3 linked regions of the Homo sapiens genome follow. The protein of the gene in region 3 interacts with the protein of the main gene of each other region in a pairwise test. Each region holds a gene or a part of one and is shown on either strand. Other genes may lie near its edges.

Region 1 (3,750 bases), on a different chromosome or scaffold from region 3:
GGTTCCAGGCCCAGCTCTTCTACCTGAAGTCAAGACAGCAGGACACGGGGCTCAGTAGGGTGCCCTGTGGTGCCAGAGACCCCCATTCGACACTCTTTAACTGTACTGCCTCAGGCAAGTTATTTAACTTCTCTGTGCCTCAGTTTCCTCATCTGCTGGACGACAACAGTATCTACCTCATACGATTGTTGTTAGAATTAAAGAAAGCATGTTAAGCCTGGACAACATTTGTAGAAACATTTTTTTTTGTTTTGTTTTTTTGTTTTTTTTTTTTGAGATGGAGTCTTGCTCTGTCGCCCAGGCTGGAGTGCAGTGGCGCAATCTCGGCTCACTGCAAGCTCCGCCTCCCGGGTTCACGCCATTCTCCTGCCTCAGCCTCCTGAGTAGCTGGGACTACAGGCGCCTGCCACCACGCCCAGCTAATTTTTTGTATTTTTAGTAGAGACGGGGTTTCACCGTGTTAGCCAGGATGGTCTCGATCTCATGACCTTGTGATCCGCCTGCCTCGGTCTCCCAAAGTGCTGGGATTACAGGCATGAGCTACAGTGCCTGGCCAAAAAAAAATTTAATTAGCTGGCCATGGTGGCACTTGTCTGTGGCCCCAGCTACTCAGGAGGATAGCTTTAGCCCAGGAGACCCAGGCTGCAGTGAGCCATGGTTGCATCACTGTAAAAAAAACAAAAAACAGGCCAAGTGGCTCACGTCTGTAATCCCAGCACTTTGGGAGGCTGAGGCAGGAGGATCACCTGAGGTCAGGAGTTTGAGATGAGCCTAGCCAACGTGGCGAGAGACCTCGTCGCTACTAAAAATGCAAAAATTAGCCGGGCGTGGTGGCACGCGCCTGTAATCCCAGCTACTCGGGAGGCTGAGGCAGGAGAATCACCTGAACCCGGGAGGCAGAGGTTGCGGTGAGCCGAGATCGCACCATTGCGCTCCAGCCTGGGCGACAGGGTGAGACTCCGTCTCAAAAACAGCAACAACAACAAACAATTAGCCGGGTGTGGTGGTGGGCGCCAGTAATCCCAGCTACTCAGGAGGCTGCTGAGGCAGGAGAATCGCTTGAACCTGGGAGGCGGAGGTTGTAGTGAGTGGAGATCACACTACTGCACTCCAGCCTGGGTGACAGAGCAAGACTGTCACACACACACACAAAATACAAAAAACAAAGCACTCAGTACAGTGCTTACTTAATACAGTGCTTACAGTGGTATACAGTAAGCATTCAATAAACGTCTATTATTACCAAAATGGCTGGGGCAAGGGCATGCTTCCTTTTTTTCTTGGCTCACTGCAACCTCCGCCTCCTGGGCAGTGGTTTGGACAAGCTTGCTTTATAACTGGTGAGTCCAACACAAATCAGGCTTCAAAAGGGATTCTTCCTCCTTTCCTGCCCTCCCTTCCTCCTTCACTTTCTTTTTACATATGAAGAAACCAAAGCTCAGGGAAGTTAAGCAACTTGCCCCAAGTCACACAGCTAGCAAGAGGCTAGATCTGAACCAAAATTTGACTCCAGGGTCCATGAGTTCAGGGTTCTTGGAAAGCCTTTCCCTGGAAGTGTGGGGGAGCCTGGGAAAACTCCGCCTCCTCCTCCCAGCCCTTGCCCCCCACCTCCAAGGATCCTCAGGATCGGGTGCAAGGTCTGGAGCACAGAGTAGCCGACTACCCCGGAACCTCCCCCACACACGTATATTACCCCGCAGGGCCGGGGGGCACGGAGATGCAGTCCAGAGGGGCCAACTGTTTGATCCGCAGGACAAAGATCCCGGCCCCCACCCCTAACTGGCCAAGTGGCTCTGGGCCACACCCCTATAGTCAGAGGGTCGCCGTTTTCGCACGGGGTCAAAGGGCACAGCAGGCCTTGCCCTCCCCTGGCCCCGGCCGCGCTTTGGAAAGGGAAAAGCTGAGCGGAGACACCGGGAAAGCGACGCTCCAGAAACACCGGGGCCGCAGAAGTAACAGAGGGCGAGCGGGCGGACGCCGAGGCGGGACCCCCGCAGAGGCAGATGCAGCCTACCCTTCTTTTCCACTGCGGCCCCCGAGCCCCTCGCGGGAATGCACGTGGGGCCTCCTGCCGAGCCCTTCCGCCCCACCCCAGTCCTGCCGCCCAGCACTCACCCGGCAGAATCCCCTAGCATGCGCCGCCGTAGCAGCCGCAGCCGCCTGAGCCGTTCCAGGGGCCTCGGCCGGCCGTCTTGATTGGTCAGGTGAGGGGCAGGGCCGGGACGTCTGGTGAGCGTTACTCGGCGATCCGAAGTGTCAGTTTCAGCGTGGGGGCGGGACTAAGAGCGGAGCTACACAACCGATTGGTCAATTTTCGAGGCCGGTGCGGAGGTCGATTCCTGGAATGGGGCGGGCCCCGGAAGGGCGAGCTCCGATTGGTCAGCTGCGGGACTGGATACGCTGAGTTCAGCAGCGGCAGTTTCAGTCAGGCTGGGCGGCCTAGGCTCGGCGCAGGCGGCAGTCCGGAGCGGCGGGGTAGGTGGGGCAGGCGGCTGGCTACTCATTGTACTCATCGTTTCATACTTTTCTTTTTTTTTTTTTTTTTGGAGACGGAGTCTCACTCTGTTGCCCAGGCTGGAGTGCAGTGGCGCGATCTCGGCTCACCACAATCTCTGCCTCCCGAGTTCAAGCGATTGATTCTCCTGCCTCAGCCTCCCGAGTAGCTGGGACTACAGGCGAGCGCCACCATGCCCGGCTTTTTTTTTTTTTTTTTTTTTTTTTTTTTTTTTTTTTGTATTTTTAGTAGAGACAGGGTTTCACTATGTTGGCCAGGCTGGTCTCGAACTCCTGACCTCGTGATCCGCCCGCCCCGGCCTCCCAAAATGCTGGGATTACAGGCATGAGCCACTGCGCCCGGCCTGCTTTATACTTTCATTCAGGTTTTTAGCGAGTGCCCGCTTTGCGCCAGAAGATAAGGACTACACAGTAAACAAGAAAGTGTAGTATTGGGGCCGGCCGCGGTTGCTCACGCCAGTAAACCTAAAAATACAAAAATTAGCCGGGCGAGGTGGCCGGCGCCTGTAATCCCAGCTACTAGGGAGGCTGAGGCAGGAGAATCGCTTGAACCCAGCTACTAGGGAGGCAGAGATTGCAGTGAACCGAGATCGCGCCACTGCACTCCAGCCTGGATGACAGAGCAAGACGCAAGACTCCATCTCAAAAAAGAAAAAAAAAAAAAAGATACCCAGCCTGGGCAACATGGCAAAACCCCGTCTCTACAAAAAATGAGCCAGGCACGTACCTGTAGTCCAGCTACTCGGGAGGCTGAGATGGGAGGATCACCTGAGTCCAAGAGGCTGAGGCTGTGGTGAGCTTTGATTGCACCACTGCACTCCACCCTGACTGAGAGACCCTGTCTCAATAAATAAATTAATTTAAAAAAGAAAGAAAGTGTGGTATTGGCGTCCAGGTAGACAAATGGATCAATGCAACAGAATAGAGTTCCGATATGTGAGCAATTAATTTTTGACAAAAATGAAAGTGCAATTCAGTGGAGAAAGGATAATGCCTTCGGCCCGGGGCGGTGGCTCACGCCTGTAATCCCAGCGCTTTGGGATGCCGAGGTGGGCAGATGGCTTGAGGTAAGGAGTTACAGCCCAGCGACACCCAGCACCCCCCCCAAAAAAATTTATTTTATCAATAATGTGTGTGGAAACTTGGGAAAACAAGAAGAGATGGTGTCTTCAACAAATGTTGTAGGTATAATTGGATATCCACACACTCATCCTAAAAAAAAAAAAAAGAAACCCA
Region 2 (3,650 bases), on a different chromosome or scaffold from region 3:
GTACGGAGAGGCCGCTTGCTCAGTGAGACTCACTGTCATCGAAGGTGGGCTTTTCCCTGAGTTTGTCTCATCAGTGCACAGGGCAGAGACCCACAGAGGAATCAGATGCCCCGTGGCTAGTGAGGGAGGGGAGGGGAGGGAAGGGAGGCCCATCCAGGCTGCTGCCGCTGCTGCAGCCCCACCTTGTGCTGGGCCCCGGGCTTCATCCACATGCACACTGAGTCTGCATGTGTTTAAAAAGGCACACCTTGGCAGATACTCTGAAGGATATTCTCTTGGCCCAGTAAATGAGCAGGACCTGAAAGCTGGCTTCTAGTCCTAGAGCTTCTGCTAACTCATTCAATGGGCTTCGTTTTCCTCTCTGGGTCTCAGTTTCTCCACCATGCAAAGGATATTTTGGACAGGCCTATGCCAGAGTTGACAAACAGGTCACACAAAGGCCAAATTCTCTCTCAGACATGTTTTTTTTGGTGTGCGTGGTGTTTGAAATTTTAAAAATTGTCAACCTGTAGTAATTAAAAGGTAGATATCTCTTGAGGAAGCAGGTCTAGTCTCGCCATTGGTTATGCTTACAATTGATCTGCCTGCAACTAACAGAAAATCCTACTAAGAGCAGCCTAAGAAATAACGATATTTCATTCCTTCACATAAGAAGTTTTGCGAGTGGCGTCCAGGGCTCATACCACAGCTCAGGGCTGCCATCGGAGAGCTGATTCCTTCGTTCCCACTGCTCTGCCATCCTTAGCAGATTGGCTTATCACCTCATGGCCATAAGAGGGCTGTGGCAGATTCAAACATAATCCATGTTCAAGGTAGGAAGGTGGAAGAGGTGGCCCAGGTCCATCTGCCTCTCTTATTTTTATTTTTATATTTTTGAGATGGACTGGAGTCTTGCTCCATCGCGTAGGCTGGAGTACAGTGGCACAATCTCACCTCACTGCAACATCTGCCTCCCGGGTTCAAGCAATTCTCCTGCCTCAGCCTCCTGAGTAGCTGGGATTACACGCGTTTACCACCATGCCTGGCTAATTTTTGTATTTTTAGTTGAGACAGGGTTTCACCACGTTGGCCAGGCTGGTCTCGAACTCCTGACCTCAGGTGATCCACCTGCCTCGGCCTCCCAAAGTGCTGGGATTACAGGCATGAGCCACTGTGCTTGGCCTTTTATTTTCTATTTTTTGAGACCTGTTGCCCAGGCTGGAGTGCAGTGGTGTGATTATGGCTCACTGCAGCCTTGACCTCCCAGGCCCAAGTGATCCTCCCACCTCAGCCTCCCAAGTAGCTGGGACTACATGCATGTGTCATCACACCCAGCTAATTTTTTTATTTTTTTTGTAGAGGCGGGGTCTCCCTGTGTTGCCCAGGCTGGTCTGGAACTCCTGGGCTCAAGCTATCCTCCCCCCTCGGCCTCCCAAAATGCTGGGATTACAGGCATGAACCATCACGACCAGTCCATCCACCCTTTTTATAGAGGAAGCAAAGGCTTTCTCAGAAATTCCTGGAGCTCATTGGTCAGGACAGTGTCACATGAGCACTGCTAGTTGCAAGGGAAGCTGGGGAAGGTGAGTGTTTAGCTTTTTCAGCCTCTCTAGTGGAAGCAGATGATGAAGAATACAAATGGCTGCAGGATTAGCCAAACAGCAATGTCTGACCTATTTGGCAATATTGGGCCTATACCCTGAAATGGCAGCTCCCAGGTGGAGTGAAAGAGCAGCTGCCCCTTTAGATACTCTTGAGTTTGTTGTGGTTGCCAGTGTCTGCTTCACGCATTTATGCCACCTCCCTGGCCCCTGCGGACACATGACTGGGCCTCCCCTGCATGAGATGATGCTTAGGTTGGTCCCCTTGGTCATGGTAAGGCTCTAGGGTAAAAAGGCTTATGATGGACAGACCCTCCACCCTGCTCCATCCCTCTTGCTGGGATCGTCCACGCCTTAGAGGACAGTGGGGAGAGCAGGGCTCTGGGACTCCATCAGTTTCTCAGGAAGACCATCAACATGTCTTGCTTCTCTCCCTGCTTGTCCACATCGACTCCTTCCTCTCCTCCCTGGATGTTGCAGTTGGCTTTCGGAAGAATCGGAAGAGGCACAGGGAACCGCAGGAAGGTAGGCAGATTTGTCAGAAACCTCCTTGGGGGCCTGTGGGGGATAGGCTACTCCTTTCCTGGTGTTCCCTGCCTGGTTGAGCTACCATGAACACCTTGTGGATCACCACCAGTCTTCAAGAGAGCCCCTTCCAAAGGCTCAGTTGTCAGCATGGACAACACAGAAAAGCTCTGCATCAACCCTCAGTCATCCCACCTGGGACTGAGGCCTCATTCCTGCTCCTTTTTCAGACCTCAGGAAGGAGCTGATGGACTTCCGGAAGTTGCTGAAAAAGAGGTGGGTTTGGGCCTGTCCATGAGGGATTTTGGAGGCTCCCATAGTATTCACCCCCTGCTATTTCCATAAGTAAGCTGGGCTTGAGCCCCACCTCTACCCAACACAGCAGGGAGCTAGACTGCCAGTAGCAGATGGGAGGATGGGAAGGGGACTGAACTGGATGGGAATGGGACAGAGCTCCAGCTCTGCCATTTCAAAGCTCTATATCCTTGAGTTAATCATCTCTCCTCTGATTTCCTCATTTGCAAAATGTGGTGGTCCACCAGAACAATGATGTACTTTTTTTTTTTAAGCAACAGAACAATGCAACACCCACTTTCCCCAGACATCCTACTTAGAAATCTACAATACAAGTTGTCAGGAGCATTTCTCCTGAAAGTTGTGGGGTGAGGCTGAGGCTCGCCCCACCCATCTCTGAATCCTTCTGGCCTCAACAGTGGTCAGTCCCAGAGATTCCAGGCTCTGCGTTTCCTCGAGTGCAGATAGAGCAGCTTCCCAGAACTACTTGGGACACCAGAGCCAGGTGGCCAACAGAGGAGCAGGGATTCCTCTGGCCTCTGACCTGCTAGCCTTGCTCCCCAGGGCCCCACCAGCCCCCAAGAAAAAGATGGACCTTGAGCAGATATGGCAGCTGCTGATGACAGCAGACAGGAAGGACTACGAGAAGATCTGCTTGAAGTATGGCATCGTCGACTACCGTGGCATGTTGCGCAGGCTGCAGGAGATGAAGAAGGAACAGGAGGACAAGATGGCACAGGTGCCTCACCCCATTCCCACCCCTCACTCCATGCCCACCCCACACACCTGGACCATAGGTGCCTCACACCTGGAGGTGGGCTTGGAGGCAGAACTTAGGAAACCAAGTATGATCAAGGGGCCTGTCTCCATCTAGTCCCCAGTGGGGTATCTGGCTAAGGCCCTGGGATCCCAGGTTGGTGTCCTGCCTTTGCAACCTGGTTCTGATACTTACTAAACTCTGGAGCTTTGGAAGGGTTAGGGCCTCTGTATCTTGGTGTCTTCATCTGTAAAATGGGAATTATAGTCATGCCTACCTTGTAGGGTTATTGGGAGGATAAATGAGAGAATGTAATTAAAGTACTTAGCTTAGTGCCTTGATTTTTGCTATCATTATCATTGTCACCAGATTGCGGGGGGGAGGTACCTGGTTTATTTCTTTCTTTTTTTTTTTTTTTTTAAGATGGAGTCTTGCTCTTTCGCCCAGGCTGGAGTGCTGTGGCCGGATCTTGGCTCACTGCAAGCTCCGCCTCC
Region 3 (3,650 bases):
GAGTGCAATCTCGGCTCACTGCAACCTCCACCTCCAGGATTCGAGCTATTCTCCTGCCTCAGCTTCCAGAGTAGCTGGGGTTACAGGCACTCACCACCACGCCTGGCTAATTTTTTCTATTTTTAGTAGAGACGGGGTTTCACCATGTTGGCCAGGCTGGTCTCAAACTCCTAACCTCAAGTGATTCGCCCACCTTGGCCTCCCAAAATGCTGGGGTTACAGGCATGAGCCACTGCGCCTGGCCCCAAAGTAATAAATATTATCAAAACAATTTTACTATGATCCAAGAACAACAACAACAAAAGGAATGAGATGGGGGGAAGACTTTTTTTTTAATCTGAAAAGATTTTACTTAATCAAATTGTGTAATAGATTTTTCCATTCCCTAGCCCTAGTATTTTTATAGCAAGGAACTGCCCTTCTTTTTAAAGCCCCAAAGGTACGTATATAATACAGTGAGTTTGACAGATGTACAGAACAGTGTAACCACCGCAATTTGAAGCTATTTCTTAATTTGTCTTGAGATCACGGAGCAATAAGATAGAGATTCCACTTAAGTCCCTGGATATGATAGGGGACAATGGTTAGAGAGAAGGGTGACTAAACGTAACCTGTTAGGAGAACAAATGTCAGCAGCTCTCCCCTCAATAGTCAACCTGATCAGTCTTTGCAATCAGAGAGAGGGAGGCTTTTGCTGCTAGGCCACACTGAGTACACAGTACTAAAACCAAGGAAAAAAATATAATCTTAGGTGAAAGTAATGTAACAAACAATAAATAATTGTGCTCGTGATAGGATTATACTTAGGCCAATTCTTTTTGCCTTGAAGTTGAAAGGGGCCTGCTACTCTGCTACCGAGAGCTATCAAGATATCTAGGCAAAAATATTATGAAAAAACATTAACAGCAAGCTAAATTTTGACATACCGTTCTCTGCTATCCAATTTATACCAGATTTCATAGCTACCAGCCACATGTGGCTACTTAAATTTAAATGAATTAAAATTAAATAAAATTTAAAAATCAATTTCTCATTTGCACTAGCCAAATCTCAAGCGCTCAATAGCTATATATGGGTGGTAGCTACTATACTGAACAGCACAGATATAGAACATGTCCCTCCTGCACAAAGTGCTATTGGATAGTGCTGATATAGACCTATCAACAGCTATCAAGTCTGCTAGCTAAACTGGCAAATTAAGAAGACATACAAATATAATTCTTTGAAAAAGATGACCAGGCAAAATTATAATCTCAAGCTGAAAACCAAAAAACATATGGTTCCAATTTCAAATAGACTTTTCCTGAACCTGATTTCAAACCTGGATATCATTTAAATTTCTCAAGTAGTTTAAGAAGTAATCTAGCCCATTTAATTCTATTCGGAATTAAATTTTATGGAAAATGCAATACATTAGATAACACATCTATCAAACTTATTTACTTGAGAAAAACTCAAGGAAAAGGAGAGAAATGAAATCAACTTAGACTGAATGTCAGATGAGTCTTCCAATCCAGTTTTACCAGCCAACTACTTTGTTTTGATTTCAATAAATTTTGCATGAGATGCTTAGTAAGTCTAGAGTAATAAAAATTCTTAAAGTGTTGGTGAACTCACCTCTAAATCAGTTCCTGCCAGAGTTGCTCCTCTGAGGTTACAGTTCTTCAACTTTGCATTTTTTAAGGTAGCCACTCTCAGGTTAATTCCTGTCATCTGACTTCCTTCCATATCCACACCTTTCAGATTAGCACCTACAGTGAACACATTCTGGGAGTAGTTTAACTTAAAAATATAGTTATCTACCTTCAACAGAACTGCAAGATGACTTAATGGAGGCCTCTTTTAACTTTTGGAAATTAATCTAAAATCTTGTCTCTCAACGAACTTATATATATAAACAGTTTACTGATGAAAGAATGCTTTCACAATACTTTTGAGGGAAGAAATTTAGTTCTGTCTTATGATAGTTAGCACTTTCATAATATGCCTCTACAGGTTTATGATAAGGGAGTGAAGTAGTCTCCTAAATATACAAGTAAACAAAGTGATCAGTCACAGATAGTAACAAATTAAGAAACAATACATTAAATCTAAAAATGATTTTTAAAAACTCCCTGGCTTTATGCAAATGAAATTTTTCCTTTTGGTCAGTGTAAGAATATTTTATTCCATTTGAAAGTTTAAGATGTTGATATTTAATTTTCCAACTAAAACCTTATTAAATATTTGAGGTTTTATTTTTTCTGAGTCCTCAATTTTGATTAGCATTTGACTGAAACCAAATGGAGGTTTCTTACCACTTTGGAAGTTCTCCAAATATGATGACAGAAGAAACCTATCCCCTACAGCTATCCTGTTTCACCCTTAACAATTATTTTCCAGGGCTTTTTTCCTTTACAGTCTGCTTCCTTCGTAGAATAGGTATTTACAGAAAGGATCTCACCTTCTAAATTGGCTTTAAGACCAGAAGGATCCTCAAAATTACACAGTTTCAGGGATGCTCCTTCTGCATTAGAACAGAGCATCTTGACTCCCTGGAGATTCGCACACTGCAAAGAAAAGAGAAAAGTCCTGGTTGTAAGGTTCATAATTTTGTTCAAATTAGCTCAAACAGTAAAAGAAAAAAAATAGAAAAGAGGGAAAGGCTCAACTCAAAACACTCATACTCAATTTTATTTTCTGTTTACAATAAAGGCTTTTCTAATTAAATACAGTAAGAACTGGGAACATTTGAAAGAAAAATTTTTTTAAAGAACTGTTTTTTAAAAAATAAATGCAAATTAACAATAGCATGCTCATTTTACATGAAACATAACGGTTTAGATAAAGAAGTTGGGTGAGTCAGAACTCTGACACCTCTATCTCTATTTTTATAAACATACCTATGCATGACAATGAAACAGTCAAAATGTATGGGTAAGGAAGGCATAGACTTGTTAGGGGTATGGATTTTCTTATTACTGTAGGAATCTTGATGTTCTAAGTGAAATTCTTGATATTCTAAGATGCTACTACTGCCCTCAAGTCAGAGGTCAGAATACAAAAGCCAGCATTTAAAGGCATTATTTAGCTAGAAAACACTAACAAGATGCTGGCTGGGTCTTTCTGCACCAACCATGGCTAAACATTATTAACCCTGAGCAGGCACATCACAATGCATAATGCAGGGCAGAGAGTAAAATGGTAGAAAATATATGTTTTAAGACTTTATTTTTTTGTTTTGTTTTGTTTGAGACAAAGTCTCACTCCGTCACCCAGGATGGAGTGCAGTGGTGCTGTCTCAGCTCACTGCAATCTCTGCCTCCCAAGTTCAAGTGATTCTCGTGCCTCAGCCTCCTGAGTAGCTTGAATTACAGGCATGCACCACCACGCCTGGCTAATTTTTGTATTTTTAGTAGAGACGGGGTTTCGCCATGTTGGCTAAGATGGTCTTGACCTCAAGTGATCTGCCTGCCTCTGCTCCCCAAAGTGCTGGGTTTACAGGCATGATCCACCACACGCAGCCAAGAGTTTTAAATTATGTTCATTTATCTCAAAGCGTTTTTGACAAACATCTTTTTTTTTTTGTCCTTAACACAAACAAAGATGCCTCTCGACATTTCACTATTTAAAGATTAGGTCCTTCAAACGTTTTTTTGATGTTAGTCTTT

The links.
Region 1: the proteins of KCTD9 (region 3) and MIIP interact in binary tests that used the Homo sapiens proteins (3 or more experiments, as listed by UniProt).
Region 2: the proteins of KCTD9 (region 3) and IGFN1 interact in binary tests that used the Homo sapiens proteins (3 or more experiments, as listed by UniProt).

The regions. Positions count from the first base shown.
Region 1 is NC_000001.11:12,017,918-12,021,667, reverse strand, and holds the start of MIIP (migration and invasion-inhibitory protein), read right to left. Parts: upstream 2,171-3,750; 5' UTR 2,116-2,170; exon of another isoform or gene 1,694-2,115; intron 24-1,693; 5' UTR 1-23.
Region 2 is NC_000001.11:201,197,274-201,200,923, forward strand, and holds part of IGFN1 (immunoglobulin-like and fibronectin type III domain-containing protein 1), read left to right. Parts: coding exon 1-44; intron 45-2,060; coding exon 2,061-2,105; intron 2,106-2,335; coding exon 2,336-2,381; intron 2,382-2,963; coding exon 2,964-3,138; intron 3,139-3,650.
Region 3 is NC_000008.11:25,430,887-25,434,536, forward strand, and holds part of KCTD9 (BTB/POZ domain-containing protein KCTD9), read right to left. Parts: intron 2,550-3,650; coding exon 2,444-2,549; intron 1,768-2,443; coding exon of another isoform or gene 1,752-1,767; coding exon 1,618-1,751; intron 1-1,617. UniProt on the Homo sapiens protein: Substrate-specific adapter of a BCR (BTB-CUL3-RBX1) E3 ubiquitin-protein ligase complex, which mediates the ubiquitination of target proteins, leading to their degradation by the proteasome.